Linked DNA regions of Homo sapiens: regions 1 and 2 are each linked to region 3. The links come from fine-mapping of genetic effects on gene expression. A gene starts in region 3. Each other region holds a variant in brackets. All regions are shown on one strand. Distances are between the middles of the regions.

The links.
Region 1: its variant is fine-mapped to the expression of TTC19 in whole blood (INTERVAL, PIP above 0.99).
Region 2: its variant is fine-mapped to the expression of TTC19 in whole blood (INTERVAL, PIP above 0.99).

What each region holds. Positions count from the first base shown.
Region 1 is chr17:15,941,065-15,949,242 of GRCh38, forward strand. It overlaps ADORA2B (adenosine A2b receptor), which reads left to right and starts at 4,066. Exons shown (of 2, transcript NM_000676.4): 1 at 4,066-4,519. The coding sequence starts at 4,185. RefSeq lists a silencer at 3,622-4,241 and an enhancer at 4,069-4,883. The variant G/T (reference allele first, on the strand shown) is at 3,489.
Region 2 is chr17:16,241,280-16,249,457 of GRCh38, forward strand. The region is part of intron 2 of PIGL (phosphatidylinositol glycan anchor biosynthesis class L); the gene reads left to right. Among named protein-coding and RNA genes, the nearest start is that of PIGL, 28 kb to the left of the region's middle. The variant A/T (reference allele first, on the strand shown) is at 4,541.
Region 3 is chr17:15,996,269-16,004,430 of GRCh38, forward strand. TTC19 (tetratricopeptide repeat domain 19) reads left to right here and starts at 3,556. Exons shown (of 10, transcript NM_017775.4): 1 at 3,556-3,764; 2 at 3,850-3,977; 3 at 5,647-5,757; 4 at 6,525-6,563; 5 at 7,563-7,619; 6 at 7,933-7,994. The coding sequence starts at 3,581. ZSWIM7 (zinc finger SWIM-type containing 7) reads right to left here and starts at 3,436. Exons shown (of 5, transcript NM_001042697.2): 1 at 3,251-3,436. The coding sequence starts at 3,326. RefSeq lists silencers at 3,010-3,169, 3,520-3,909 and an enhancer at 3,310-3,399.

The DNA of each region.
Region 1 (8,178 bases), 55 kb before region 3:
GATGTGTACTAGCAGTCTGGAAGAGGTCCACGGAGGGTCAGTTTGTTCAGGAAGCATACCCTTCCACTTTCACCAGTGAAAGTCCCACTTGAGTTTCTAGGGCTCTAGTCCTAACCTAACCAGATGCTTTCATCACTGCAGTTGTTTTCCAGGAGTCAGGATCTAGAGGTAGTCAGATGGCAGATGGCTCCTCCTGCCCCTTTTTAGCCTGACCCTGTGAAGTAGATATTGTTATCCCATCTTATACATAAGAAATAGGGGCTTAGAAAGATTAATTGACTTGTCCAACATCAACAGCAGAGCTGGGAATCAAACCTGGAGTCTCTGTTGCTAAGACCTGGGCTCTGCTCCCTGCACACCAATTGCTTTCAAGACTAAACCAGCTGGGTGTAGTGGCTCACACTTGTAATCCCGGCACTTTGGGAGGCTGAGATGGGAGGATCGCTTGAGCCCAGGGGTTCAAGACCAGCCTGGGCAACATAGTGGGACACTGTCTCTACAAAAACATTACAAATTAACCAGGCATGGTGGTGTGCACCTGTAGTCCTAGCCACTTGGGAGGCTGGGGTGGGAGGATCACCTGAGCCCAGGAGGTTGAGGCTGCAGTAAGCTATGATCCCACCATGGTGCTACAGCTTCAGTGACAGAGTGAGACTCTTGTTTCAAAAAAAAAAAAAAAAAAGACTAAATGCCATGACTCTCTTCGGATTCCACCCTTCCTCCTCGTGTTTCCTGAATAATAACCTGTTAATAATAATTATTATAATATTTAATAATAATAATTGGCACCCCCATGGACCCAGTGAGTCCAGCTCAAATCCTAGCGTGGATCAGGGGTTGAAGGAGTCAGGAAAATGTATGATTCATTTCACAAAGACTTTGTGAAGAGGGGCGGGTTGTTGTGTGAGTCAGAGGGTACCAGGTGGGGCTGGGGTGGGGAGAGGACGGAGAAGGGAAAGCTTTGCTGGTGAGGGACACCGGGGACCTGAAACTCAGTGGACTGCAACACAGACGGGAACAGGGCACAGCCCTGTGCTGGAGACTTCCTACTTGGGTGCTATCGTTTGGAAATCTGTCCTCCCAAATCTCATGCTGAAATGTAATCCCCAGTGTTGGAGGTGGGGCCTAGTGGAAGCAGTGGAGCAGTTTCTGATGAATGGTTTAGTGCCATCCTTTTTAGTGCTGTCCTCATGATAGTGAGTGAGTTCTCACTAGATCCGGTTGTTAAAAAAGGTGTGGCACCTCCCCCCACCTCTTGCTCCTGCTTTCCCCATGTGACATGCCTGCTCCCACTTCACCCTCTGCCACTAGTAAAGCTCCCTGAGGCCCCTTGGAAGCCAAGCAGATGCTGGCACTATGGTTTACAGGCTGCAGAACTGTGAGCCAAATAAACCTCTTTTCTTTGTAAATTACCCAGTCTCAGATATTTCCCTATAGCAATGTAAGAATGGCCTAATACATTGGGTGATTCAGGGAAGGTTTCCTGATGGAGGTTGGGCTCTGAAAAGGGGAAATGGTGATTCTGGGCACAGGAAATGCTAGAGCAGAGCCCAGGCCCAGCAGCTGCAGGGCGTGCAGGAACCACTCATAGCAACCAGCCAGACACCGTTCGCCTCCTCTCCCTCTGCAAAATCTCCACTCACTCCTTTGGATATTGCTCTGACCATCCCCGCCCCGTCCTGTGACCTCTGCGGACTGGCATCCCAGCAGGATGGCCCAGCTCTCCAGCCTGGCAGCCAGAGCCTTCTCCACTAGGCCTTTTTCTCTTCACTCTCCTGGGCATGGCACCCCTGGGCAAACTCCTAACTACCACCTCTGCCTGGTATAGCTGGAACCACCCCACTGTGAAGCCTCCCTCACTCTGTAAAAGCCAGTACCCCAGGAAGCCTCCTCTAACCCTTTGCCCTCTGCCACTCCAAGGAAGTGCTATTGGAGGAGCTGCCTGATCTCTCTGGCCTTCTGTGTGGCAGCAGAAGTTTGTGTCAACTGCTGTGGGAACGTGATTGGTGGAGCAGGTGATTCCAGAACTCACGTGACCAGGACACGGAATGTGTGGGCTTGCCAATATTTTGATATATAAATCAACTGTTTTCATTATGGAAGTAACAAAACCTCAAGGGAAATAGAAAAAAAAATTCCCTGTAATCATCCCACCCAGCTAGGAGGTCTACTGTGTGTGTTTTTGACATTTTGCTGTCCTCGTTGGTGCAAGGGCAGATGTGACTGTTTATGCCTGTGGAGGGCAGAGGGGTTTTTCTTCTTCTTGTCTTTTTTTAGAGACAGGGTCTCCCTCTTTTGCCCAGCCTGGATGGAATGCAGTGGCATGATCCCAGCTCACTGCAGCCTCGAACCCCTGGCCTCAAAGGATCCTCCTGCCTCAGCCTCCCAAGTAGCTGGGACTACAGGCACCTGCCACCGTGCCTGGCTGATTTATTTTTTATTTGTTTGTTTAGAGATGGGGTCTCCCTACATTGGCCAGGCTGGTCTTGAACTCCTGGCCTCAAATGTTCCTCCTGTCTTGGCCTCCCAAAGTTTTGGGATTATAGGCGTGAGCCATGTTGTCGTCATTACAGCTACATTGAGATATAATTTATGTGCCACACAATGCATGCCTTTCAAGTGTACAGTTCAGTGGCATTGAGGTATATCCACAGAACCGTACAACCATCACCACATTGAGAAAATTTTTATCACCCTAAAAAATCCTTTACAAAATCCTTTACCCTTTAGCAGTCACCCCATGTTTTGATTTTTGCTTTACATGATTTTACAAGCATCTTTTCCTGTTGCTGGAAAATCTCCTTACCCATCCTCTTTGGTGACTGTCAGCAAAGGCTTTCGGGTGGTGAAATAGCGTGGCCAGGAGTGCTCTAGAACAATGGTGTTGGTGAGGGCTGCAGAAGCTGAGGACCCACAGGCAGAGAGGGAGGGATGGTAGAAGCAGGTGGTGAGGAGGGACTCGGGGCAGGACTTTGGGGGTAAAAGGAAGCAAGTCTCTGGAAGCAGAACCAGCAGCACTGCTGATCATTGGGACGTGGAGAAAGGCGAAGGCTCAGGGTGTCAGCAAACTTCCTAGGGTGGGTGAGGGTTGCCAGGTCAATAACGAACAGGGTCCCAGGAAAAGGCGGCAGCACAGGTTTGGGGAGAATTAGAGATGAGCTTGGTTTTGGTCTTGTTGGATTTGGGGGCACCAGTCTCTCTCCTGGCGAGAGTCGGCAGTGGGGTGTTAGGATCTGGCCCTCAGGAGGCTGTTAGGGCTGAAGCAAGAGATTTGGGAGTTAAGGGTGTGAGGGCCACGTGGGAGGCCTCGGGAGCCTGTGCCGATCCAGGGTGAGTGTGAAGGAAAGAAAAAAGAGGGCCCGGGGAACACTGGTATTTTCGGGCGGTGGACGAGGATGGGACGGCCACGAGCTTGTCTTAAGGTAGAAGGCAGAGCGGGGCCGTAGGGGCAGTGGCGCGGGCGAGGGTGGAGAACAGCGCTGAGCCTC[G/T]CTGGGAGGCGGCCGGAGGGGGCTGCAGCCCCCGAGGGCTCCTTGCAGTCCGGCCCCGCAGCCTGGAGACAGCTCCGGTGGTGCTGCGCTGCCCGAGACTGCTGCACGAGCGGGGACTGCGGCCTCGGCTCCCTGCCTGCCCGGCAGCCCCCCATCCAGTCGGCCTGCCCGGGGTGCGCAGGGTTAGCCTGGAGTGAGCTCGCCCCGCCCGGGGTTGCGCGGCCCTGGGGGGTCCTCTCGCGGCGGCTCCTGGGACCTGCTGGCGCCCCGGGCAGAGCCCGGCCCCATCCCAGGAGTCGCCCGGACTGGAAGGCAGTGCGAGCACTGGGACACAGCCTCCGAGCTCGAGCGTGACGGGAAGTTGGGGCAATTTGTTAGTTATCCGCCGCCACCAAGACGCGGCACGGCGCCTGGACCGGAGGGGCCCCGCGCGGGCGCGAACTTTGGGCTCGGGCGAGTGGGTGGTGCTCCGCCCAGCCCGAGACGGGCGGGCGCGCGGGCCAATGGGTGCCGCCTCTTGGCCGCGGGGGGCCCCGACCCGTGGGTCCCGGCCACCAGCGCCCCAGCCCCGAGGCTCAGAAGCGGCAGGCGGAGGCGCGGTCCGGGCGCTATGGCCATGCCCGGCGGGTCTCACGCGGCTGCCCCTCGCCCGGCGCGCCTTCGGTAGGGGGCGCCCGGGGCCCAGCTGGCCCGGCCATGCTGCTGGAGACACAGGACGCGCTGTACGTGGCGCTGGAGCTGGTCATCGCCGCGCTTTCGGTGGCGGGCAACGTGCTGGTGTGCGCCGCGGTGGGCACGGCGAACACTCTGCAGACGCCCACCAACTACTTCCTGGTGTCCCTGGCTGCGGCCGACGTGGCCGTGGGGCTCTTCGCCATCCCCTTTGCCATCACCATCAGCCTGGGCTTCTGCACTGACTTCTACGGCTGCCTCTTCCTCGCCTGCTTCGTGCTGGTGCTCACGCAGAGCTCCATCTTCAGCCTTCTGGCCGTGGCAGTCGACAGATACCTGGCCATCTGTGTCCCGCTCAGGTGAGGCGCTCGGCGTCGCCCGAACTCGGGGCCCCGTCGGAGCTCCGAAATGGGTCGTCTTCTCCAGGCCGGGGTTCCTCCCTCGGGGGCCCCAGACGGGCCAGGCTGGGGGCGCGCGGGGCGCTTGGAGGGCTGGTTCCCAGCCTGGCCACCCCGCAACGCTAGACCAGTGCGCCCGGGCACCCAAGACATCCCAGATGCGCGTCGCTCTAAGGAGATCTGCGTAGGGACAGCTCTAGGGGGTCCGGGGAGTGCGGTCCCCGGCGCCCGGGGAGGCGCCGTGGAAACCCCGGGGAAAGCGTCACCCCCGGGGAAAGCGTCACCCCCGTGGGCGGGTGGAGCCCGGGGCGCGGGAGTTTTGGTGATCACATCTCCACTCCTGCCACGAAGGCCGTTCCTAACACTCGCCCGCAGCGGCGGTGCAGCGGCAGTCCCGTGAGTGCTGCGGCTCCCGGAGGCCCGGGAGGTTCCCACTAAGGGCAAGGCAACTTTGGACGCTGGGCATTCGCACCGTCAGAATGGACACGCATGAGCCAGCTTCAGAACGTGTCTGCTGCGGAGAGGCGGCCCGGCCCATCCCAGGGGAAGGTGTCCGTTAACTTTGGGGAACGCTACGGACTCAGATTATATACTTTTAAAAGGAGTTACAATGCTTCCTCGTGTCTGGCAAACGGCCTTACAGCCTCACTGCCCTTGTGTAACTATTTATCTCCTGCTGCCCTGTTGGGAGCGGGCTGAGAAGTGCAGAAAATGGTGGCGAACTTACTTGTCCACTCTTTCTCCCACACTGAGAAAATCTAGGATTCAGGGGATGGAGTCAGCCAGCGACCAGAGTGGATTCCCAGTTGGAGCTGATGACTTCAACATTGAGAGTTTGTTGAAAGTATTTATTCTCTGTCTTTGGTGCCTGGGCCACTTTGGCATTTCTGAGGAGAGCTTGAGATCTCTTTAAATTTGGAGCTGAGACAGGGAAACTAAATCACAGAGTAGGAAGGAAGGGAAGGAATTCATTTATTGGGTGCCAACTCTGTGCAGACAGTTTATAATAAACGTGTCCCCAGCAGTCCTTGCAGTAGTACCAGAGGACGGGTGCTGTAACCTTCATCTCGTAGAGGAGGGGTGATGGCCCAGGGAGGTTGGAGTCTTGCCCAGGATGGTGTATCAGGGATGGGTGTCAGAGCCGGGGCTTGAACTCACAGCTGGCACCGTGTCCCCACCCATGCCATCAGGCCACTCTGCAAGGCCATGTGTGGCACCGTGTTTAGGAGTCAGGGAGAAAAGTGCTCTGCTGTTTTGGGAGGAGGAGCCTGCCTGCAGTAAACTGGTGGTTGTAGGGGAATGTGTTTGTGGGAATGGAGCCGGAGAATGCTCCCAGAGGCCATTTGAGTAGGCAGATGTGTTGGGCCTGGTCCTTGCAGGTTGTTTCGTGGGTCCCAGCAGGAACAGGAGCCTCCTGCTTGGGAGGGCTGTGAGCCTTATGTGGGTGTCTGGCCACTCCATGTGCTGCTGCCCGTGCTGTTGGACCAGGAGGCCTTATGTCTCCCATCAGGTGTGACAGCCCAGGGATTTCCAAGGCTTAGGGAGGACAGCAGTTTCTTCTCTCTCTTCTGGATCCCTTCCCTGCCTTTTGGTGTCATCGTTGTTACTTGATGGCATTTTGGATGTTTTGCATCCAGCAGAGCAGTCACAAGCCCCAGCCTGAGTTGTCCATCTAATGGAAACCCCTTGGACTTGCCCTGGCAGAGACCAGAGACCCAGAGAGGAGTTAGTGGAACAATCTCCCAGGCCACAGGGAGCAGGAAGTTCCATGAAAGTTTAAATCTGTTCCTTCTTGTCCTGGTTTGTGCTGGGTGAGGTCTTGAAAAAAATGGGTGTGGGTGTGTTAAGGGGAAAGTGCTGTGAATCACAGGCCCTGAGCTTCTTTGCATTGCCAAGGGCAGGAGGGAAGAACACTGAGGCTCGCCCCATCCTGCCTTCCTGGCCCGTCCAGAGCTTGGAGGTCTGGAAGAGGTGCACAGGCAGTCCCCAGCTCCCTGCCCCAGAGTTAGTCGTCTGACCTGGCCACAGCACCACCCCAACCCTGGTGGGTGGGAGAGGTGTACTAGGGCCCCCAGGGCTTCCCTCTCAGGGGCTGGTGCCTGGGGCAGGCCTTCCCTCAGCTGGCCTAGCAGTTCATGGCCCCTTGGGAAGAGGTTAAAATACAGATTACAGGGCCTCACCTGGTTGTACTGAATCAGAATCTCTGGAGTGGGTGTCGAGGGGATTCCAGCAGTGGGATCTTTAACCAGGGACATTTGGGTCCAGCGATCTAAGAATCCTCCTAGATTCAGGGCCTGAAGCTTTCCTCACTTGACTGACACAGGCTGGGTGCATGGCGCCCCAAGCACTGACTTGGCCCTGAGGCCTTCCTGGGGTTGTGGAACTCCAGGTGAGAGTAAAGTTGGAAGTGCCCTGTTTGGGAGGAGGTGTGTCCCCTTTGAAGCCAAGCAATAAGGAGGGTGAGGTGCAGGGAGTGAGGGCTAAAGGCTTAGGCTAGGACAGTCCTGGGACCTACCCCCAGTTCCTCCCGGTTCGAGGGCTCCAAGTGTGAGGCCTGTGGCCGCAGAGACCACAGCCCCCACCTGCCACCGCATTGCCAAGGTGTTTACTGATGTGACAGATGACAGTGTAGAAGGGAGGGGAGCCGGAGGGAATGCCAGGGACAAATATGACGCCCTTGGCCTGGCCCTTTGCCTTCAGGACAGGGCTGGCCACAAACAGAAGTCCATTGCCTCTGGTTCAAGTCCATAGACAATTCCTGATGTTGGGCCCTGGCGGCGGGGGGCTCCAGTCCCCAGTGGTGCCGACGGGAGTGGGCGTGTAGCTCCTGGGCTGGGGGAGGTGGACGTGTACAGGCAGGAGGGTGTGGGCCATGCCCAAAGCTGCTCCCAGCTCTCACTTCACCCTCAGGCAGGAGCACTTCCTCCTCCCTGCTTGAATCCTGTTCCTTTCATGCCACACCCACTGTGGGGGTCTTCGCTGCTTGTAGACCCAGTTTCCCTGGCCCTGTGGCATTGAGTCTCTGGCAGGGCTGAGGCCAGCTGTTTTCCTAGTGGAGCTGAAAGAGGGTGGATCCGGGAGGGTTTAGTTGGCCGAATGGGTCCAGTGCCGTGTATCTGACCTGTCCCTGGACCCTGCCCAGTCACCCTCTCTGCTCTTGCCACATTGAGGCTTTTCTCTGTGCCTCACGTATCTGGTCTTTGAGGTAGGGATTAAAGACCTCTTAGCAAGACTTTGTGCTTAGGGTAGGAGTTGGCGGGGGGTTCTGAATGTTTTTCAAAACTTAAAAAAATTGAGCTATAGGGCCGGGCACGGTGGCTCACGCCTGTAATCCCAGCACTTTGGGAGGCTGAAGAGGGTGGATCACCTGAGGTCAGGAGCTCGAGACCAGCTTGGCCAACATGGTGAAACCCTGTCTCTACTGAAAATATAAAAATTAGCTGGGTGTGGTGGTGGGTGCCTGTAATCCCAGCTACTTGAGAGGCTGAGGCAGGAGAATCGCTTGAACCCGGGAGGCAGAGGTTGCAGTGAGCCAAGATCACGCCATTGCACTCCACCTTGGGCAACAAGAGCAAAACTCTGCCTCAAAAAAAAAAAATTGAGCTATAGTCCAGGCACAG
Region 2 (8,178 bases), 250 kb after region 3:
TATGGGAGGATGAAAGTCTTTGGGGTGGGCTGGGTGCAGTGGCTCAGGCCTGTAATTCCAGCACTTTGGGAGGCTGAGGTGGGCGGATCACCTGAGGTCAGGAGTTTGAGACCAGCCTGACCAACGTGGAGAAACCCCATCTCTACTAAAAATACAAAATTAGCCGTGTGTGGTGGTGCATGGAGGCTGAGGCAGGAGAATCACTTGAACCTGGGAGGAGGACGGTGCAGTGAGCCGAGATCACACCACTGCACTCCAGAATGGGCAACAAGAGTGAAACTCTGTCTTAAAAAAAAAAAAGAAAATCTTTGGGGTGAATGAAATTGCCCATGGATTAACTGGAGTGATAAGAACTGGGGATCAGTTAGAGGAAAATAAAACCACAAACTATAATGAGGAGAATTGGAAGCATTGAGATGTAAGGTGGGAATACTTGAGAAAATTATAAGGAAAATGAGAATTATCTGCTCAGTATTAAACAAAATTAGCATCAAATGGTATAAGAAATTTGGTACCCTGCTTTTTTTACTAGAGAGTATTTTTAGCATTTTTCTATGTCATTAAATAATCATTAAAAGTCTTTAATGATTGTAAAGATTTAATCGTGAAGATGTACCATAACATTTAACATTCTCCTACTATTGAATATTTAAATCTTTCTAATATTTAAGCACTTACAATTTTTTTAGCAAATCTCTTTGAAGTTCTGACTCTTTCCATAAATGAATTTCTAGATATTGAATTACTGGGTCAGAGTATAGGACTTTTTCTTTGGGGTTTTTTTTTGTTTGTTTTTGGAGACAAGGTCTCTGCCATCAGGCTAAAGTGCAATGACATGATCCTGTCTCACTGCAAACTCTAACTTCTGGGCTCAAGCAATCTTCCCACCTCAGCCTCCTAAGTAGCTAGGACTACAGGTGTGCACCACCATGCCCAGCTAATTTTAAAAATTATTTTAGATCCAGAGTCTTGCCATGTCACCCAGGCTGGTCTCCAACCCTTGGGCTCAAGTGATCTGCCTCAGCTTCCCAAAGTGCTGATATTACAGCATGAGCCACCATTCCCAGTCTATATAGAACTTTTTATAGTTTTCTTCATCTAGGTACTAAACAATTCTTGTTAAAGTTATTTTGATTCTTTTTTATTATTATTGCTGTGAAAAAGATTTTTTGGTTAAGAATTTACTGCTAGTATGTAGCTTTATTGATTTTTTAATGTATTTATTTTATATTCATCACTTTGAAACTTCTGTAAAAAGCCTACCAGTTTTAACTTGATTCCCTAAAGTTTTGTAGGTAAATCATCTGCAAATAATGCTAATACAATCTTTCATGTTTTCAACATATGCCTCTTATTTCTGATTCCTTTTTTTTTTTTTTTTTTTTTTTTTTTGAGACAGAGTCTCGCTTGTAACACAATCTCTGCCTCCTGGGTTCAAGTGATTCTTCTGTCTCAGCCTCCTGAGTAGCTGAGATTACAGGCATACACCACCATACCCGGCTAATTTTTTGTTTTTTTAGTAAAGATGGGGTTTCACCATGTTGGTCAGGCTGGTCTTGAACTCCTGACCACAAATGGTCCACTTCCCAAAGTGCTGGGATTACAGGCATGAGCCACTGCGCTCAGCCCTGATCCATTTCTTATTTCTTTGAGTGGATTTCCTTAATCTATGTTAAACAAAAAAGGGAAAGCAGGCAACTTTATCCGTATTTATGATTTGATTGACAACATATCCAGTGTTTAACCATTAACTGTGTTGTTACTGGTGTGTGTTTGTTTGTTTGTTTATGAGACGGAGTCTTGCTCTGTTACCCAGGCTGGAATGCAGTGGTGCAATCTTGGCTCACAGCAACCTCCACCTCTCGGGTTCAAGCAATTCTCCTGCCTCAGCCTCCCAAGTAGCTAGGATCACAGGCGTGTGCCACCCACCCAGCTAATTTTTATATTTTTAGTAGAGATAGGGTTTCACCATGTTGGCCAGGCTGGTCTCGAACTGCTGACCTCAGGGGATCCACCTGCCTCGAACTCCCAAAGTGTTGGGATTACAGGCGTGAGCCACCGTTTCTGGCCTGCTGATTATTCTTTATAATATTAGGCATTGGTGGGAATTGATGTTCACTGTATTTGATTTGGGGTGGGGATCCCATTCATTTCAGTATGCTACAAAGAGATGAAGGAAAAAGTTTAGATTTATTCTTGATCTTACTTGCTTCATGGTAAACTACTGGGGTCACCACGGGAGAATTTCTTCTGTTTATACCAGTGGATTTATAGAGCCAGACTGCCCAGACTGAAACCCAAGTTTAAAGTTTTTAATTGCGTAACCTAGGCAAGTTACTGAATTCTGTTCCTAAATTTCTTCCTCCGTAAACCTCGAAAGATACATGGTTTTGAGTTAATTTGTGAAAGGAGTTATGGGTTCCTTTGTTTTCAAAGATGATATCCCACCCTCTTACTCTGTGAGTGTTGTGATTTGTTTTTTCACATTAATATTGTAACCGCCCAAGGGGTTCACCTTGCCCACTGCCTAGACAGAGCCAATTTATCCAGATGGAGAGCTGCAATGGTGAAAGAGTAATTCACGCAGAGCTGCGGGAGACCAGAGTTTTACTGTTACTCAAATCTGTCTCCCTGAGCATTCAGGCAGCAGAGTTTTTAAGCATAATGTGGTGGGTGGGGCGAAGCCAGTGAGCTGATTGGTCAGAGACGAAATCATGGGGAGTCGAAGGTCTCTTCTTGGGCTGAGTCAGTTCCTGGGTGGGGGACTACAAGATCAGATGAGCCAGTTTATTGATCTGGGTGATCCATCAAGTGCAGGGTCTGCAAAATATCTCAAGCACTGATCTTAGCAGTTTAGGGAGGGTTAGAATCTTGTGTCCTCCAGCTGCATGACTCCTAAACCATAATTTATAATCTTGGGCCTAACTCGTTAGTCCTACAAAGGCAATCTAGTCCCCAGGCAAGGAGGTCTGCTTTGGGAAAGGGCTGTTACCGTCTTTGTTTAAACTATGATCTATAAATTAAGTTTCTCCCAAAGTTAGTTCATCCTATGCCCAGGAATGAACAAGGACAGCTTGGAGGTTAGAAGCAAGATGGAGTCAGTTAAGTTAGATCTCTTTCACTGTCTCAGTCATAATTTTGCAAAGGCAATTTCAATATTAGTAATCGTGTTTTTTCTCAGGCACTCCATTTGCACAATGTCCTGCCTGTGCAGTGTCTGCTTTGGCCCAGTAATGCAAATGTTTTCGGGGACAAATCTGTTTTGGAGATCTTGGTTATTAAGATCTTTACTCTGATAGAAAGCAATGTGCATTCAGTACACTCCTCAACTTGGGATGGGGTTACATTTGGATAAACACCTCCTAAGTTGAAGGTATAAAGCGGGGAGTTTTTGGTTTTTGTTTTTTGCTTTTGAGACAGGGTCTCACTCTGTCACCCAGGTTAGAGTGCAGTGGCAGGATCATGGCTTACTGCAGCCTCCACCTCCCGGGCTCAAGTGACCCTCCTGCCTCAGTCTCCCGAGTAGCTGGGACTACAGGCACACGTCACCACATCTAGCTAATTTTTTTGGTAATTATTTTAGAGACAGGGTTTTGCCACGTTGCATAGGCTGGTTTTGAGCTCCTGAGCTCAAGCAACCCACCCACCTCAGCCTTCCAAAGTGCTGGGATTACAGGTGTGAGCCATCACACCCAGACTAGAGTGTGTTTTTTGTTGTTCTTGTTTTTTTGAGACGGAGTTTCGCTCTTGTTGCCCAGGCTGGAGTGTAATGGTGCAATCTCGGCTCACTGCAACCTCCACCTCCTGGATTCAAGCAATTTTCCTGCCTCAGCCTCCCAGGAAGCTAGGATTACAGGTGCCCACCACCACGCCCAGCTAATTTTTGTATTTTTAGTAGAGACGAGGTTTCACCACATTGGCCAGGATGGTCTCAATCTCTTGACCTCGTGATCCACCCGCCTCGGCCTCTCAAGAAGCTGGGATTACAGGCGCCTGCCACTATGCCCAGCTAAATTTTTGTATTTTTAGTAGAGACGGGATTTTGCCGTGTTGGCCAGGCTGGTCTTGAAGTCCTGAACTCAGATGATCCACCTGCCTCGGCCTTCCAAAGTGCTGGGATTACAAGCATGAGCCACTACACCCGGCCTAGAGTGTGTTTTTTACTTATGATATTTTCAGTTTAGGATGGGTTTATTGGGACGTAGCCAGATTGTAAGCCAGGGAGTATATATATATATATATATTTGAGACGGAGTCTTGCTCTATCGCCAGGCTGGAGTGCAGTGGCTAATTTTTTGTATTTTTAGTAGAGACGGGGTTTCACCATGTTGGGCAGGATGGTCTCGATCTCTTGACCTCATGATCTGCCCGCCTCAGCCCTCCAAAATGCTGAGATTACAGGTGTGAGCCACTATGCCTGGCCTATATATATATACACACATATATATATACACACACACATATATATACACACACATATATATATACATACACACACACATATATATATATATACACACACACACATATATATATATAT[A/T]TTTTTTTTTGAGACGGAGTCTCGGAGTCTCCCTCTGTCACCCAGGCTGGAGTGCAGTGGCACAATCTCAGCTCGCTTCAAGCTCTGCCTCCTGGGTTCACACCATTCTCCCACCTCAGCCTCCCAAGTAGCTGGGACTACAGGCACCCGCCACCTTGACCAGCTATTTTTATTTTTGTGTTTTTAGTAGAGACGGGGTTTCACCATGTTAGCCAGGATGGTCTTGATCTACTGACCTTGTGATCCACCCGCCTCGGCCTCCCAAAGTGCTGGGATTACAGGCGTGAGCCACTGCGCCCGGTCATGGCACCTATATTTTTTATATATCACATGAAGACCATGTAGCTTCAGCATCACTCCCCTACTCGTGAAATGCTATAGTAGAGGGATAGTAAGCCTATTAAAAGTAAGTACTTCAGGCCGGGTGCGGTGGCTCACACCTGTAATCCCAGCACTTTGGGAGGCAGGTGGATCACGAGGTCAAGAGATCGAGACCATCCTGGCCAACACGGTGAAACCCCGTCTCTACTAAAAATACAAAAATTAGCTGGGCATGGTGGTGCACACCTGTAGTCCCAGCTACTTGGGAGGCTGACGCAGGAGAATCGCTTGAACCCGGGAAGCGGAGGTTGCACTGAGCCGAGATTGCACCACTGCACTCTAGCCTGGCAACAGAGTGAGACTCCGTCTCAAAAAAAAAAAGTAAATACTTAAAGAAGCCAGTTTGAAGATTCAAGAAAAATGCATCTTAGTCTGCTTGGGCTCCCTTAACAAAATACCGTAGACAGTGTGGCTTAAACAATAGAAATTTATTTTCCCACATTTCTGCAGGCTAGAAGTCCAGATCAAGGTCTTTTTTTTTTTTTTTTTTTTTTTTGAGACGGAGTCTCGCTCTGTCGCCCAGGCCGGACTGCGGACTGCAGTGGCGCAATCTCGGCTCACTGCAAGCTCTGCTTCCCGGGTTCACGCCATTCTCCTGCCTCAGCCTCCCGAGTAGCTGGGACTACAGGCGCCCGCCACCGCGCCCGGCTAATTTTTTTTGTATTTTTTTAGTAGAGACGGGGTTTCACCTTGTTAGCCAGGATGGTCTCGATCTCCTGACCTCATGATCCACCCGCCTCGGCCTCCCAAAGTGCTGGGATTACAGGCGTGAGCCACCGCGCCCGGCCCAGATCAAGGTCTTGCAGGGTCACTTTCTTATGAGGACTCTCTTCCTGGCTTGCAGATGACCTTCTCGCTATGTTCTCACATGCTGGAAAGAGATTCTCTCACTCTCTCCTTCTTCCCTCCCTCTTCTTAAAAGGCTACAAGTTTTATTGGATTAAAGCCCCACTCGTATGACCTCATGTGATCTTAGTTACCTCCTAAAACCCTATCTCAAAATAGTTACAATTAGTGGTTAGGGCTTCAGCACATGAATTTGTTGAGGACACTATTCAGTTCATAGTATTCCATCCCAGACTCCCACATTCATGTCCTTATTTCATGCAAAATACATTCATCCCATCCTAACAGCCTCCAAAGTCTTAACTCATTCCAGCATTAACTCGAAAGTCCAAAGTCTCATCTAAATAGCCTCACCAGCTGTGAACCTGTGAAAACAGACAAGTTATATATTTACAAAATATAAGGAATGGAGAGGCATAGGATAGATATTTTCATTCCAAAAGGGAGAAATGGGTGACAGGCCCCAGGCAAGGCCAAAACCTAGGAAGGTAAACTCCATTAGATCTTGAGGCTTGAGAACAATCCTCTTTGGGCGGATATTCGGCCCTCCAAGCCCTCTGGAGCCTGTGGTGGGAATGGTAGTCCTTCTGATCTCTGGATAACTTTTGAGGTCATTCTTCCCTTTTCTTGAAGGACGACGCATGTTTGCAGCCAGATAGCTCTGTTGTCTGGTCCTGTAGACTCTTAAGTCCAGCAGGCTTCTTTCGTCCCACCCGATTTTTTCTTTCTCCTGGCTGTTATTGAGGTGGTTGATTACATGTGTGGTTCACACCCATGCTAATCACCTCATCAAATGGTTGTTCAGTCACACCAGAGTGCTCTCTTCAGAACAAGCTTTCTCTCTTTTTTTTTTCTTTTGGAGATGGAGTCTCACTCTGTCGCCCAGGCTGGAGTACAGTGGCACGATCTCAGCTCACTGCAACCTCTGCCTCCTGGGTTCAAGCGATTCTCCTGCCTCAGCCTCCCAAGTAGCCGGGATTACAGGCGCGCACCACCACACCTGGCTAATTTTTGTGTTTTTAGTAGAGACGGGGTTTCAGCATGTTGGTCAGGCTGGTCCTGAACTCCTGACCTCGTGATCCACCAGCCTTGGCCTCCCAAAGTGCTGGGATTACAGGCTTGAGCCACTGCGCCCAGCCTCAAGCTTTCTCATTTTTTTACAATATGGACAGGCTGAAAATTTTCCAAAACCTTTACGTTCTGGTTCCTTTTAAACGTAGCAATTTCTTCTTTATCTCTCAACTCTTACATTTTACTATAAACAGTCAAGAGGACCCAGGCCACACCTTCAAAATTTTACTTAGAATTCGCCTCAGCTAAATATCTAATTTCATCCTTCAGAAGTTCTATCTTCCACAAAACACTAGAACACAATACAGGCAGGTTCTTTGCTTCTTTATAATAGTGATCACCTTTTCTCCATTTTCCAATGTCTTATCTCATTTTTCTCTGAGACCCCATCAGAATGGCCTTAAAGACCATATTTCCACTGACATTCTGTTCATGATTGTTTATGTATTCTCTGAGAAGATGGAGGTTTTCTCTCCAGTCTCCTTTTCCTTTCCTGAGTCCTCACCAGAATCACCTTTAATGTCCATATTTCTACCAACCATTCCTTCCTGGCAGTCTAGGATTTTTCTAGCATTCACCTCAAAACTCCTCCAACCTCTACCCATTATCTAGTTCCAAAGCCACTTGCACATTTTTATGTATCTGTTACTTCACAGTACTAAAATCTGTCTTAGTCAGCTTGGGCTGCCAAAACAAAATACCATAGACTGGGTGGCTTAAACAACACAAATTTATTTTCTCAGAGTCCTGCAGACTAGAAGTCCCAGATCAAGGTCTGGCAGGGTTGGTTTCTGGTAAGGGTCCTCAGCCTGACTTGCACATGGCTGCCTTCTCACTGTGCCTCATGTGGTGGAGGGACAGAGGGAGACAGATCTCTTCCTTTTCTTATAGCACCACCAGTTCTATCAGATTAGGGCCCCACATTTATGGATTTATATAACCTCAATTGCAGTAGTCCTCCCTTATCCACAGTTTTGCTTTCTGTGGTTTCGGTTACCTGCAGTCAACTGTGGTCTAAAAATATTAAATGGAAATTCCAGAAATAAACAATTTATACATTTAAAATGTACACCATTCTGGCTGGGCACAGTGCACTCACGCCTGTAATCCCAGCAATTTGGGAGGCCGAGGCAGGTGGATCACCTGAGGTCAGGAGTTCAAGACCAGCCTGGTCAACATGGTGAAACCCTGTCTCTACTAAAAATACAAAAATTAGCTGGGCATGGTGGCGCACGCCTGTAGTCCCAGCTACTCGGGAGGCTGAGACACAAGAATCGCTTGAATCTGGTAGGAAACAAGTTGCAGTGAGCCAAGATCATGCCGTCACACTCCAGCCTGGG
Region 3 (8,162 bases):
CTCCAGCCTGGGCAACAAGAGCGAAACTCCGTCTCAAAAAAAACCCAAAAAAACAAAAAAACCCCACAACTTTTTCAGACATAAGCCTCAAACAGGGGCCGGTGTGGGGGCTCACAACTATAATCCCAGCACTTTGGGAGGCCAAGGCAGAAGGATCGCCTGAGCCCAGGAGTTCCAGAGTAGCCTGGGCAACAAAGGAAGACCCGTCTCTACAGAAAATAAAATAATCAGCTGGGCATGAGGTGTGATTGCGCAACTGTACTCTAGCCTGGGGAACAGAGTGAGACCCGGTCTCAAAAAATAGAAAAGAAAGCCTCAAAAGGTACATCTCATGCCCCCTTCTTCAGGAAGCTGGCAGAGTCTGTGTGCCATAATATAAGGTAGTAAGCCTGGGCAACACAGTGAAACCCCGTCTCTACAAACAATACAAAAACTAGCTGGGCATGGTGGTGCACACCTGTGGTACCAGTTACTCAGGAGGCTGAGACAAGAGGATCTCTTGAGCCTGGGAGGTTGAGGGAGCAGTGACCTATGATTGTGCCACTGCACTCCAGCCTGGGTGACAGAGCAAGACCTTGTCTCGAAAAAAAAAAAAAAAATTTTACATGGGCCGGGTGCGGTGGCTCATGCCTGTAATCCTGGCACTTTGGGAAGCCAAGGCAGGTGGACCTCTTGAGCTCCAGACTTCGAGTCCAGCCTAGGCAACATAGTGAGACCTTGTCTCTACAAAAAATACAAAAAACTAGCCAGCTGTGGTATTGTGTGCCTGCAGTCCCAGATACTCACTTGGGAGGCTGAGGTGGGAGGATCATCTGAGCCTAGGAGGTCAAAGCTACAGTGAGCTTTGATCATGCTATTGCACATCAGCCTGGGTGACAGACTGTCTCAAAAAAAAAAAAAAGAGGTAGTAAACTGAGAAAAAGAAAACTGTAGGATATACTAAACATAGGACCCAACAAAGATACAGAGAATTCCCAGATAATAATGGTTAAGAGAGATCTCAGCAAACAGCCGAGAGATCAGCCAGTCCATATTAAGCAAGTCCGAAGGCTCTAGAGATGTCTTCAGGAAGGTGAAACTGATAACATACTTCGTTCATCTGAACATCTTGAGGGGAGATTGAGAACACTAGTAAAGGATGTGAGGTTAAAGTAGGAATAAATATGTAAAAAACTAAATAAGCACATAAACAAAACCAAGATAGTTGTAACTCCAGGGAAATCCAAAAGTTACAAAGAAAACAAAAAGTAATCATAGCTTCCTACATGGTTCCACTGTGACTAGTTTATATATCATCATACAAATAAAACTTGGAATCTTGATCTAAAAAAATTACCACTGAAGAATGGGGGTTAGGAAGGGTGCATAACTATATATTAATAGAAAAAAGATTTTGAAAAAGACAGAAAACAGGGCTTCTGAAAATAAACATGAATCAACAGCATTGGTTCCTGTGTCTGAACCATGGGTGTCAGGGGCAATGATTATGCCCCCTTCAGGACTGTCAATGTGTCTTGTGAACCTTCTTGTTGGAGGGAAAAAACCCAAAACTGGCTGGGCACGGTGGCTCACGCCTGTAATCCCAGCATTTTGGGAGGCTGAGGTGTCCGTATCACAAGGTCAGGAGTTTGAGACCAGCCTGGCCAATATGGTGAAACCCCGTCTCTTCTAAAAATACACAAATTAGCCGGGTGTGGTGGCATGCGCCTGTAGTCACAGCTACTTGGGAGGCTGAGGCAGGAGAATCACTTGAACTTGGGAAGCGGAGGTTGCACTGAGCTGAGATCGCCCATTGCACTCCAGCCTGGGAGACAGAGCAAGACTCTGTCTAAAAAAAAAAAACAAACCAACCCAAACTACTGTCAGTGTATGGATTAACCTATTCAGACACAGAACAGTTCTGGCGATTATTGTTTAAAGTGACAGCATTCCAAACCCTCAGGCCATCAAATCTGAGAGCCCAGAACAATTGTATAAGCTAACATCAGTTGGCTTTTTTCCCATCCTTTTTGGAAACAAGTATGTTTGAATACTTGGCTGCACTAATCTTTCAAGCACATATACTTAAGTCTCCTTAATTTTGACTGAGATGAGGAAACAAAGTTGGCTTATTTTTCTCAGTTCCTTAAAAACAGTAACTCAAGATAAACCCTTTCAAAATGCAGTACAGTACTTTTAAAACAAAAGCCATCCAAGTTGAATAAGCGATGGCAGTTTGGGGGCCTGATATGGCTGTTATTTATAAGGTGGCCATTTTTACATCCTAAGAGTAGTTCATTAGTCAATGCATTTTGAGTATATCAAATTTGATTTGATCTTATCCTAGCATACTCTGAACACATCTTGAGATCAACCCTTCTCAAGTGATTTTGGTGAGCATAGCCAAAGAGTACCCTCTGCTGGTCAGAAAAAAAATGGTGCTTTCACAATACCCAGATTTACTCCAACGATTGCATATGCATTTAGGTTTTGTGGCTCTTAAAATGCTTTTTTTTTTTTTTTTGAGATGGAATTTCGCTCTTGTTGCCCAGGCTGGAGTGCAATGGCGCGATCTCGGCTCACGGCAACCTCCGCCTCCCGGGTTCAAGCGATTCTCCTGCCTCAGCCTCCTGAGTAGCTGGAATTACAGGCGCCCGCCACCACGCCCAGCTAATTTTTTGTATTTTTAGTAGAGACGAAGTTTCACCATGTTGGCCAGGCTGGTCTCGAACTCCTGACCTTAGGTAATCCAACTGCCTCGGCCTCCCAAAGTGCTGGGATTACGGGAGTGAGCCACTGCGCTGGGCCTACTTTTTAAAGTGTATGGAAGCATTAACTTTAATGTTAACATCAGAATTTGAGAAAAAGAAGTTTAATAATTCAAAATTTCGTGTAAAATAATCAAGAACTCCACGTTTCTATCACTCACTGTAGGCTCCCGTCCCTTCCACCCCCGGGCGGGGACCCCTCCCAGCGACCCGGCCAGCTCTCAGCACTTCGGTCCCCACTGGCCTACTCGCTCCGACGGAGGGGCTCCTGCAACTGCGCTGTACCGTAAATATTTGCTGAATCGATTTGACTTTTACTTGTTCCAATTTCGCTTTTTTGTTGTTTTGTTTTTTTGTCTTTTTACGAACAAGAGGTTTAGAGAACCACATGGAAAAAAGGCAGGGCCAGGCCCGGACACCCCGCCTCCTGCCTCCCGGCCCGGCGGTGCCCGGATGCCCCGCCCGCGCCCATGGCGCAGCCACACACGACCTCGGTCCCGTACTTCGCGCGCTCTCCTGCACCGCCGCCGCCATCTCGCTCAGGAGCTCCTCCACAACCGCCGGCAACACTACGGCCATCGCGCCGCAGGACACGCCCTCCACGACCGGCGGACCGCCGCGACGCTCCAGCTGACTGCGCCTACCTGTGGAGGATCCTGACCCCCCGCCGGGGCAGGGCGAGACGGAGTGACGTCGGGGCGCGTCATCGCGCGTGCGGACGCAGGGATGTCCTGCTCAGTCGTCAGGGCCCGGCCAATCCGGAGGGCGCTCGGCGCGTGGTCGGGGGCCAGGAGCGCGTCTGGCCTGCAGTGCGCAGAGGACGCGGCGGGAGCATGTTCCGGCTCCTGAGCTGGAGCCTGGGCCGAGGCTTCCTGCGGGCCGCGGGGCGGCGGTGCCGGGGCTGCTCCGCGCGCCTGCTCCCGGGGCTGGCAGGAGGTCCGGGGCCCGAGGTGCAGGTGCCGCCATCCCGAGTCGCGCCGCACGGCCGGGGCCCAGGCCTGCTGCCGCTGCTGGCAGGTGAGGGGCGCGGGCCGGGCGGGGCCGGCCGGGCGGGGACAGGGGCGCGGGCCGGGCCCGATGACCTCAGAGCCCCTTCCCGCAGCGCTCGCCTGGTTCTCGAGGCCCGCTGCGGCAGAGGAGGAGGAGCAGCAGGGAGCCGACGGGGCCGCTGCCGAGGACGGGGCGGACGAGGCCGAGGCAGAGATCATCCAGCTGCTGAAGCGAGCCAAGGTGAGGCGGCTCCGGGCCCTGCGCCCGGCCGAGCGCGGTAGCCTTTGTGAGCGGGGTCTTGGCGTTGCTGCGCATTACTCTCTCCGCCTCGCCGAAGAGTGGATGGAGGCTCCGCGGGTAAAATTGCCGAGAATGAGGTGGGTCATCCGAGAGGGGATTGGAATCCATCCAGGCTTTTCCGACTCTAAGGCCTGCAGTAAAACCTCTGCAGTGTCAAGTGCAAATGGAGATGGCGCCCTAGGCATCACGCTTTATGCAAACGAAATATCGGGAACGTTTTGTAGTGGTTTTATCAATTAACCAGCCTATCTGAAATGACATAATTTCGCACGTATATAGCGGCCTGAAAATGGCAACTTAGTGTTGGTTATGCGGTTCGGTTCTCCTCCTGAATTCTTCCTTTTCTCCACATCCTTTTCTATTTTTTTTTCCTCCTCTTTTCCCAAGTTATCTCATCTCTTCCATTGAGCTAAATACCTACTCGATGCCAACAACGTCCAAATTTGTATTTCCATTCTGTAGTGTGCTACTGACATGCCATTTGCACTTTAGGACCATACCTACCTCTCAGATTTAACATGCCCAAAACTAAACGATCTTTAATGCCTCCTCAACATACGCTTTCGCCATCTCTTTACTACCATCAGTTTTTCAGCCTAAAAACCTCATAGTCATTCTTAAAACTTGTGGTACCTTACCATTGCCTTCCAATACACTTACAGTCCAGCAACAAGTCCTGTTGCCAACAAATGCAAAATATTTCTCAAATCTTTCCCCTTTTGTCTATCTCCCTTGCTGTCACCCTAGTGCAAACCATCATTGCCACCAACTATGCTCCAGTAGTCTTTCCTGGCCTCCTGGCCTCTTGCAATCTATTCTCCATGCAGAAACCAAAGCGACCAAAAAAAAAAAGAGTAAATTGGATTATGTCATCTCCTTGTCAGAAAGCTCTGAATGGCTACCCACTGCATTTATGATAAAATACAAACTCCTTGCCTTGGCTTGCAACACCCCACATGATCTAAACCAGCATATACCTTGCCCACCCATTTGGCAGTAATCCTCTGGCTCACCATCCTCCCTTCACATCTATTTCTTTGCATTTCTTCCTCAAAACCATTCTCTTCAGCTTGTAGGGACTTCACTCATTCTCTACCCTCTGTTTGAGTCATTGTTCTCCCCAGGTCCTTATTTGGTTGACTCATTCTCATCCTTACTACCTCAGTTTAGCTGTCACTTCCTTGGAAGGCTTCCCTAAGTCCTATTTAGAGGAGACCCCTTATCATTCCTTTCTGTCATCTTTATAGCTCTTATCATTAGTTGTAATTAAGCTTACTTGTCCTATATGGTCACCTCCAGCCTGCAAGAAATTAGAAAGAGGATGGAGGACAAGCAGCTTCCTTATAAAATATGTTGTAAGATCACATTCCTTCTGCCTGTGTCTCTTGGCCAAAACTTCATCAGATGGCCACACCTAGCTGCAAGGGAGGCTGACCTCCCTGTCATCTCTGTAGACAATGCTTTGTACATAGTAGGAATTCAGTAAATGTCTGATGAATGAGTTAGCTTCCTTCTATCAGTTGGGATGTACAGTTGCATACACTTCTGTCTCTTAGCATATGCATCTACTATATGTTTCATTTTCTATTATTTTGTCTTCCCTTTTCAGTTGAGCATTATGAAAGATGAGCCAGAAGAGGCTGAGTTAATTTTGCATGACGCTCTTCGTCTCGCCTATCAGACTGATAACAAGAAGGCCATCACTTACACTTATGATTTGGTAACTCTTATAACCAGTCTGAACCACTGATGAGGAAGGTTGGATGGGAGGGAAGGGTAGTTAGTTCTTCTGATTTATATTCCTGACTTTCACGATGTTCTAAAACTCCTTTTCTTTTTACTGAGTTTTCTTTTGGCTTCAGTTTCATTTTTTGTTTTGTTTTGTTTTTTTGAGATGGAGCCTCACTCTGTTGCCCAGGCTGCAGTGCAGTGGCACAATCTTGGCTCACTGCAGCCTCCGCCTCATGAGTTCAGACGATTCTTTTGCCTCACCCTCCCGAGTAGCTGGATTACAGGCATGCATCACTATGCCTGGCTAAATTTTGTATTGTAGTAGAGACGAGGTTTCACCATATTGGCCAGGCTGGTCTCGAACTCCTGATCTCAGGTGATCCACCTGCCTTGGCCTCCCAAAGTGCTGAGATTTCAGGCATGAGCCACCACGCCCGGCCACAGCTTCAGTTTTTTTACCCTTGGGGTGACATAAGACCTCTCAATTCCAGACCAAAAAAAACCAGTATCATTAGCATGTTTTTTTAATGATGAGTGGACCTAGATTTGGTTTGTTAACAACAAAGTATGTGCAAGTATTTAATTCTCACATGATTGCTGTCCTGTGCTTCTTCTTGCAGATTAATTGGTGATGTGCTTTTCATTTTCAACTATTTTTTAAATTTTGAGGGTGAAAGCAAAAGGGAATTTTAAAGTTTTGAAATAAGTAGGAACACAGTATTCTAAACTGAAAAACAATTTGTAATTTGCTTTCAGATGGCCAACTTAGCATTTATACGGGGTCAGCTTGAAAATGTAAGTAAATTGCTTTGTAATATCTTGAATTTATGAAGGAGTAGCTTCAAGGGAACTGTAATAGTAAGAGTACAGGCTAAGCTGCTATAACAAAGAGACCCTAGAATATAGTGACTCAAACAAGATAAAAGTGTATTTCTCTTTATTGTGTTAGTCCAGAGATAGGCTAAAGACTGAAGGCAGACAGACATAGGCACCTTTGCTCTCTGATCCAGAAGTCCAGGTTTCTTCTAAGATAAGCCCTCCTCTGCCTAGGTGAGCTGACTCACCTCCAGTCTGCAGGAAGGGGGAGAAGATGGACTGTGAGCAGCTTCCTTATAAAACATGATTAGAAGTTCACGTTCTTTCTGCCTGCATCCCTTGGCCTAAATTTTATCATATGACCATATCTAACTTAAGGGTGTCCAATCTGCTAAAATTGACTGAATTTTTTTTTTAAGATAAGGTCTTGCTCTGTTGCCCAGGTTGGAGTGCGGTGGCTTAATCATGGCTGACTGCAACCTCGACCTGCCAGGCTCAGTTGATCCTCTCACCTCAGCCTCCTGAGTAGCTGGGATTCCAGGCGTGTGCCACAACACTTGGCTAATTTTCTTATTTATTTATTTATTTATTTATTTATTTATTGTAGAGACGGGATTTCACCATATTTCCCAGGCTAAATCGAGGGGACTCTGTAATCAAAAAGATGGAGAAGAGAATGACTATTAGGAGACAGTTTGTAGTCTCTGCCACAGTGGGTTTGGATAAGAACTTAATCTCTGAGGTTGTTTTCTACTCATCAGAGAGTAGTTTAAGGTACACAGAGGATGTTGAGGGTCCTGATATTTTGATCTGTTTTCGCTTCAAAAGGGTACTTTTCTGTGTGTGAGTGTGCGTGTGTGTGGGTATATGGGTTTTACAAGGAATGTTGCATCAGACTGGCACTTAGAATCCAGGGTCATATATATATATATAAAATGGGGCCCAATTAAAAGAAAAATCTTTTCCTTATGCTTTTAGGCTGAACAACTTTTTAAAGCAACAATGAGTTACCTCCTTGGAGGGGGCATGAAGCAGGTAAGGACATTGCCTAGTATTGGCCCCTCACTGAAGCAGTTTTCAAAACAGTCTTGTCTCCTGAAAACTCCTCCTAGCCCCACCACATGCTTTGGTCAGGAAAGGTGGAGTTTCCCTTCTGAGATCTCTATACAAATTGCCATTCTTTCACTAAATGCAACAGCATGCTTGCCAAGGAATTCACAGTTGGCTCATCACTCTAAAAGAATAAAGACTGTGGCTTTGAGGCCACCGTCAGTCTGGAAGTTGATCTGAAATATGCCATGAAAAAATTTACTTGTTATGAGTTCCCTTCATTCTCTTTCTCTCACAGGAGGACAATGCAATAATTGAAATTTCCCTAAAGCTGGCCAGTATCTATGCTGCGCAGAACAGGTAAGTACAGCAGCCAGGGAGTAGGACTGTGGGCAGGAAACTTTGACTCTGGGATGTTACATAATATTCATTGTCTACTGGTCATCTGGGTCTCCCAGAAATTGGGTGTCACACTCAAAGTGTTCCATCCCTCATCTTTGAAATTGTCAGTCTTTTTCCAGTTTGCCC